2 linked regions of the Homo sapiens genome follow. The protein of the gene in region 1 purifies or fractionates together with the protein of each later gene. This does not show direct contact. Each region holds a gene or a part of one and is shown on either strand. Other genes may lie near its edges. The genes, in order: NIM1K and SEPTIN9.

The links.
Region 2: the proteins of NIM1K (region 1) and SEPTIN9 purify together in Homo sapiens (affinity purification with mass spectrometry; one large-scale study listed by BioGRID and IntAct). This does not show direct contact.

What each region holds. Positions count from the first base shown.
Region 1 is NC_000005.10:43,195,225-43,199,038, reverse strand, and holds part of NIM1K (serine/threonine-protein kinase NIM1), read right to left. Parts: intron 1-3,814.
Region 2 is NC_000017.11:77,494,234-77,497,844, forward strand, and holds part of SEPTIN9 (septin-9), read left to right. Parts: intron 1-3,081; coding exon 3,082-3,133; intron 3,134-3,611.

The sequences.
Region 1 (3,814 bases):
TTTTGTATTTTTAGTAGAGATGGGGTTTTTCCATATTGGTCAGGCTGGTCTCGAACTCCTGACCTCAGGTGATCCACCCACCTTGGCCTCCTAAAGTGCTGGGATTACAGGTGTGAGCCACCGTGCTTGGCCCTTTATACATATTTTTAAAAATCTTTACAACAGCCCTAAAAGGTGCCTGCTATTATCCTCATTTTTCAGATGAAGAAACTAAACTTCAGAAGGACTTGGTAACTTGTCCAAAGCCATACAGGCAATTAACATCCAAGTTTAATTTCAAGCCCAAGACTGTCTGACCTCAGGGTCTGTGCTTCACACAAAACAGATGAGGCTTCTTCACCTTGTCTCATGAGCAGGAGCTGTGTGTGCCACAGGCAATCCCCTCTAAACAGATGCTGCTAGAAAGTAGGAGGATAAGAAATAGATCGTGTTCTGAAATGGTTAAAAGACAATATGAAGTGGGCTGGAAAGGTTTGGCTTTTCAGTAATCATTACTTAATAAAGTCCGCTCTTTTTTTTTTAAGTTCAAGTAATCATTGTTGAAAATAAAAGGCAATAAAAATAAAGACAGTTTTCACTATAGAAAGAAGGAAAGAAAGAAGGAAGGAAGGAAAGTAGGAAAGAAAGAAAGAGAGCGAGCTCGAGAGGGAGGGAGGGAGGAAGGGGGAGAGAGAGAGAGCAAGACAGAAAGAAAGAAAGACAGAAAGACAGAAAGGAAGGAAGGGAGGAAGGAAGTAAGGAAGGAAGGAAGAAAGGAGAGAAAGAGAGAAAGAAAGAAAGGAAAGAAAGAAAAGAAAGAAAGAAAGAAAGAAAGAAAGAAAGAAAGAAAGAGAAAGAAAGAAAGAAAGAAAGAAAGAAAGAAAGAAAGAAAGAAAGAAAGAAAGAAAGAAAGAAAGAAAGAAAGAAATCATATTGGCCAGGTGCGGGTGCAGAGCAAGACTCCTCCATCGGAAAAAAGAAAAGAAAAGAAATAGATTATGTTTTCCCCCTACTTCCTTGCCCTCACCCCTACTCTAAGCAATGTGAGGTTGCTACCCCTCTTACTCTACTATGGAATACTCCTTCAATATCAAGATGACGTGTTCAGTTCAACAAACATTATTTTTAAGCTCCGTCCTCCATGTTTAAGTGTACAAGTTACCCCCAGGAACAATGTAGATATAACTAAATCTACAGCTAGTGGGGCAAGGTAGATGCATAAACAGATCGTCTAAATATAATGGCCAAAGGCTAAACTAGAGATAGGTACAGACAGGGTGGGGCCCAAAAGAGAACATCTGGAAGGAGATAAGGCCTGAAGGAATTTCCAGGTGTGATTCAGCAAGTACTGAAAGATAGAGAAATGTAGGTCAGGGAAATGGTAAAATGGGAGAGGGGGTATGGAGTATGGATCATGGAAATTGAGGCAGTATAAAGGGTGGAAAAATCAGTACCTCTGTGTTCTGTAGGAGCTCAAGGGCTGGCGCTGTTGATTACATCTGAGGGAGTATTTGGCTACATTTCAAATTTCCAAAAAGTTTAAAAGGCTCTTTAAAAATCTTCATGATTAAAAATGACTAAGGTGTATTTTATTAGCCAAGAATAGAACTAATTTGGCCAGGCGTGGTGGCTCACGCCTGTAATCCCAGCACTTTGGGAGGCCAAGGCAGAAGGATGGCTTGAGGCCAGGAGTTCAAGACCAGCCTGGGCAACATAGAGAGGCCCGCCCCCCCTACCACCGACAACTCTACAAAAATAAAAAACTTAGCTGGACATGATGGTGCATGCCTGTAGTCCCAGCTACTCTGGAGTCTGAAATGAGAGGATCACTTGTGCCCAGAAGTTCTAGGCTGCAGTGAGCTATGATTGTACCACTGCACTGTAGTCTAGGTGAGTGAGATCCTGCCTCTAAATAAAACATAAAAATAAATAAGTCAATAGATTCTGTCCAAAATTGATAAATCAAGAACCAGTGGCCAGGCATGGTGGCTCATGCTTGTAATCCCAGCACTTTGGGAGGCCAAAGTGAGAGGATTGCTTGAGCCCAGGAGTTTGAGACCAGGCTGGGCAACATAGTGAAACCTTGTCTTTACCAAAAAAAAAAAAAAAAAAAAAAAGCTGGGCATGGGCATGGTAGCGTGCACCTATAGCCCCAGCTACTCAAGAGGTTGAGGGGGAAGGATTGCTTGAACTCAGGAATTTAAGGCTGCAGTGAGCCATGATCACACCACTGTACTCTACCCTGGGCAACAGTGTGAGAACCTGTCTCAAGAAAAAAAGAAAAAACAGCAACATAAGCTAATTATTTGGACATAGGGAGGTAAGTGATCAAACAGCCAAGAGTTCAAAATGATTGCCTCTGGAGACTGGGACTGTTGTTTTAGTTATAAGCTTTTATTTTTTATTTATTTATTTATTTATTTTTGAGACAGAGTCTCGCTCTGTCGCCCAGGCTGGAGTGCAGTGGCGCGATCTCGGCTCACTACAAGCTCCATCTCTCAGGCTCAAGCCATTCTCCTGCCTCAGCCTCCCGAGTAGCTGGGACTACAGGCGCCCACCACCACACCTGGCTAATTTTTTTTTTTTTGTATATTTAGTAGAGACAGGGTTTCACTGTGTTAGCCAGGATGGTCTCGATCTCCTGACCTCATGATCCACCCACCTCGGCCTCCCAAAGTGCTGGGATTACAGGCGTAAGCCACCGCGCCCAGCCAGTTATAAGCTTTTAATATACTCTCATAAAATTAGGTGAATGCATTGTGATGATAACAATTTGAACAATTTTTTAAAGTAAAAAGAAAAATTTCAGTGCAATTATGTAATCAAGTGTATCCATATATTATCCCAACTAGATAATTCCAACAAATAGAGACACAGAAAGCTTCTTGATGGCTTTAGGATTAGGGAGAAAAGATCTAATGAGCAGCTAGTTCAGGAGACCCGAAAAGACAGCTGCCTCAGCCCACACCACTTGGATGGGTGGCAGGGAGTCAGAATGAACTAAGATCTGCCGCTAAGGCCTCCCAAGTCACACGATTTTGCTAAATAGGGTACTGACTGCTTTCTGGAAAACCATCAGTGTTCTCTGTGGAAGATGAAGAGTGGAGTTCTTCTTAGTTTCCTATTCTGCAACTTCGTTTTCCTTCTGTGCAACCCTCTTTTCACTTGATGTTTTCGCTTTTACTTTCTTTCTATTAATCTGCTTTCTCCTTACAGTTTTTTCCCCTTAACAGTTTTATTTTGCTCTCTAATCTTAAATTCTTCCCGCTATCCATGCCCTGAATTTCTCTTAAGTCTTGGCTAATGCTCATATTCATAATGCTCATGTCAGACAATTTAGATTTTTGTCTCGATTTTCCAAGTGGTTAGCTGAAATCACTTTTTTTTTTTTTTTTTTTGGATTCAGAGTCTTTCTGTGTCTCCCAGGATGGAATGCAGTGGCATAATCACAGCTCACTGCAGCCTTGAACCTCCCAGGCTCAAGCAATCCTCCTCCCTCAGTCTCCCCAGTAGCTGGGACTACAGGCATGCACCACCACACCCAGCTAATTTTTAAAAAATTTTTATAGAGACAAGGTCTCACCATGTTGCCCAGGCTGGTCTCGAACTCCTGGGCTCAAGCAGTCCTTCTGCTTCAGCCTCCCAAAGTATTGGGATTACAGGCCTGAGCCACGGCACCGACCTATCACTTGGCTTTTGAACACAACTTGTCCATCTGTAAAACTGATTAATATTCCTCAGGATGCTGTATAATAATGGCTAAGCTAACCTTGAAGTTCTTGAGAGAAAGTAATTTAAGAACTATGATGTGGTTAATTCAAGTTGTAGACTATTA
Region 2 (3,611 bases), on another chromosome or scaffold:
GTCTTTGAATGGATGGGAGCCCCTGGGGGGCCACAGTTCAACCCACTCCTGGCGGTGACACCCCGGGAGGGATGGGCCCGAACGTTTCCTTCCCCTTCCTCTCTCTGTCCCTTCATTTCTCATTAGAATGGAAGAGGGGAAGGTGCAGAGGGAAATGCAGCAGGAAAAGCCACTTTGTTCTGGGAGAGCACTTGGCTGAAAGGCCCAGTAGAGCAGGAAGCACAAGTCTCTTAATCTTCCAGGGCCTCAGTTTTCATCATCCACAAAGTGGGTGCAGTGTGCCAAGATTTTAGTGAGTTGAGAGACTGTCCCAAAGACCACAGAGCTTTTTGGGAAGCTGTTGCTCTAAAAAAATGGTCATAATGACAATTACCAGGAGGCATCAGACACTCCTGTGCCACTGGCTAGACATGGGTTATCTCGTTTCATGTCCGAAGCTCCCCGCACCCACCCTCCTTGCAGAGTTGAAGAGGTGCTGTGAGCAGAAAACCTGCCAAGGGACCCAGAACGGGAGGCGGCTCTAGAATCTACAGCTCCAGCCCTGCACCAGACTCCCTCGAGATGGGAGTTCATGCCTGGAGGAGGGTGTGGAGAGGCACACGGGCCTTTCCCCTGTCTGCACTCCTCCCCTACCACCACCCCTGCCGGGCCCACCCTGCGGGAGCTGCCCAGCTGGGTGCAGCCTGGGTGTTTTCCAGTATCCGCCTGTGGTGTCAGGCTGGCTTGCCTCCCCTTGGCCCCTCTGCCTGCAGTTCCTCTCTTCCTCTCTGCCCAAAGAGTTCTTGCTGTTTAGGAAACTTTTTATGAAAGGCAGGTTTGGGAGAGTTAGGGATGGATGGGCCTGGGACGGGCCGGCGGCTTTGCTATGGGCGTGCCTCTGCTGCACCCTGGTGGCCAACCTTGAGTACCGCAGGTGGCCGGTGACAGAAACTGTCAGGAAATGCACAAGAGAGAGGTCCCCGCACCTCTCTGACCTGTGCGTTGTTGAGCACCACTGGCTCCAGCTGAGGAAGAGTCTGGAACCTGTCAGGACAGTTGTGAGGTGGTGGGGCCCACTTTCCAGCAGTCTTATATGAGGACCCTGGAAATGTGCCTTCAGCACTGCTGGGTTTTTATATCAGGGGCCCCATGAGTTCATAGCTGACCTGACACCCGGACTAGTAAGGGCTGTGCCTTGTTCTTGCCTCCCACTTGGTGAACAGCATCTTGAGGTATCTTTCCCATCCTTAGAAACCACCCCAAGTATTGTCAATAGAAATGTGGGGTGTAATTGATCACGCCATGAACTCATTTAATCCTCATGTCCCTGAGAGGCGGGTGACGTTATTATCCACATTTTATGGATGAGGAAACTGAGGGAATGAGAGTAACTTGCCCGAGCCAGGGAGTGGCGATCACACACTCCAACTCCAGCCTGAGAGCCCCATTCTTCCTGCCGGCTCTCGCTGCCCGTCAGTGTTAGATGAGAGTGCTGCTGGTCAGTCTGCAGGAGGTTCTAGTGTGGACACCGCCCTACACAGGGCCGTGGCAGGAGGGCCTAGGCAAAGGCAACCGGCATAGCACTGAGAGCACTTGAGGGCTGGGCAAGGTGGAGGCCCCGGCCCTGCCTGCTGGCCTACCAAGTAAAAACTAGACATTTTTAACTTGGGGAAAAGCCATGTGGCTCTGCGATGGGGCAGCCTGGAGCCAGGTGTATGGGTTCTGCATCCCGCTCCAGCCTTATGCACTGTGGAGCTGAGACAGACACAGTTCTTGCGTTCTCTATGCCTCATTTTCTTTTCTTTTCTTTTTCTTTTTCTTTTTTTTTTTTTTTGAGACGAAGTTTCACTCTTTTGCCCAGGCTGGAGTGCCGTGGCGTGATCTTGGCTCACCACAACCTCCACCTCCTGGGTTCCAGTGATTCTCCTGCCTCAGCCTCCTGAGTAGCTGGGATTACAGGCGCCTGGTACCAGGCCTGGCTAATTTTTGTATTTTTAACAGAGACGAGATTTCATCATGTTGGCCAGGCTGGTCTCGAACTCCTGACCTCGTGATCCACCCACCTCAGCCTCCCAAAGTGCTGGGATTGCAGACGTGAGCCGTGGTGCCCAGCGTCTACGCCCCATTTTCGTAAGATAATGGGGATAACAAAGGAATCACAAGAGACACTTGCAGGTGTGTGAAGACGAAGTTCATCACATGGGAGGGCACCGGGTGTCTTTATTTGCCTTCCCTGCCCGGCTCCCCACCTCCAGTGATGCCGTTCACTGCCCTCCTTGTTAAAAGGCCTTCTGTTATATAACAGTTACACATGCCAGGCACCGCGTGTTCATATAGGAGTTACGAAGCACAGCAATAAAATGACCACTCTGAGATGGCCACCAGCTCGAGCCCGAGGGCACTTGTGGGTGCCCGTGGTCTCCTGCCCAGTCTCCCTGAGAAGTGGCCACTGTCCCGAGCTTGGGCTTGTATGTATTGTGTGAAGTGCACATGTCCCTGAGCAATGTTTAGCATTGCTGATTCTTGAGCTTGTGAATGGTCGTCCACAGTACGTAGCCCCTGTGTGTGTCCCTGTGTGTGTGTGCTCTGAGCGCACACAAGGTGGATGGGGCCGTGGGGGTAACACCCTGTGGGCCACAGGTTTTCTTTAAAATCCCAGCTCCGATTCCTGCTTCATCCCATTCCCAGCAGCCCAGCCCCCTGCCTGTCTTCAGGCCCCTGCTGGGACGTCCTGCTCTCCCTGGTCACCCCAGTGGTGCGGGGGCCCACTGCCCTGGCTTCTCCACTGTGGCTTCCTTCCATGCTCCTATTTGGCCTGGTCACTGTGCCATCTCCCATTAGCCAGGAACTTTCTGGAGAGCAGGAGCTGAGCTGTCCAGGAGCAGGAGCTGGTGCTGGTCACTCCAGTATCCCCCAGACTGAGGGCAGTGCCAGGTGTCCTATACTCAGCTGCAGAGCAGGTGGTTCCCCTGCCCTCCTGCCCATGGGGCTGCCCTCAGACTCTGCTTTTGGCACCAGCATTTCTGGGCAGGGGGAGAGAGGTGGGGTCCGGGCAGAGTTTCTCCACTGGGACATTAAAGCCCCTCCTGTCTCCTCTCCTAGTTGAAAACACCACACACTGTGAGTTTGCCTACCTGCGGGACCTTCTCATCAGGTGAGAGACAGGGTGCTTGGGTGGGGCTGACGGCTTCACCCCTAAGAGGGCCCTACAGCGGGTGGGGGCAGTGGGTGTGGGGCCGAAGCCCTGGGCAGAGTGGGTGCCCCCTGCCACCTGCCTGCCCTGCCCTCGGGAAGATCTTGGAAGCCCATCTTCTGAAAAAGAAAACCCACTGGGAAATGAAGCAGGCAGTGAAGATCCTTTTCAACCCCTGCGAAGTTGGCTGGATGGGAAGGCTGAGCTTTGATCCACTGTGGTCTGGCCCGTTAGAGCTGCCCGGTGGCCACTAAGGGCCCAGTGAGGCCTCATGTGCAGGCCCTGCCGGCAGCGTGGGGCGTCTCCAGCTCCGATCCCACTGGCCTCTGACCCCTACCCCTTTCACCTGGCTGAGGCTTCTCCTTGTTTCCCTTGAGTCCAGGCAAGGAGGGGAAGCCCTGATGGAGAGGGTGCTGGGTGGGTGGTCCCTGGAGTGTGG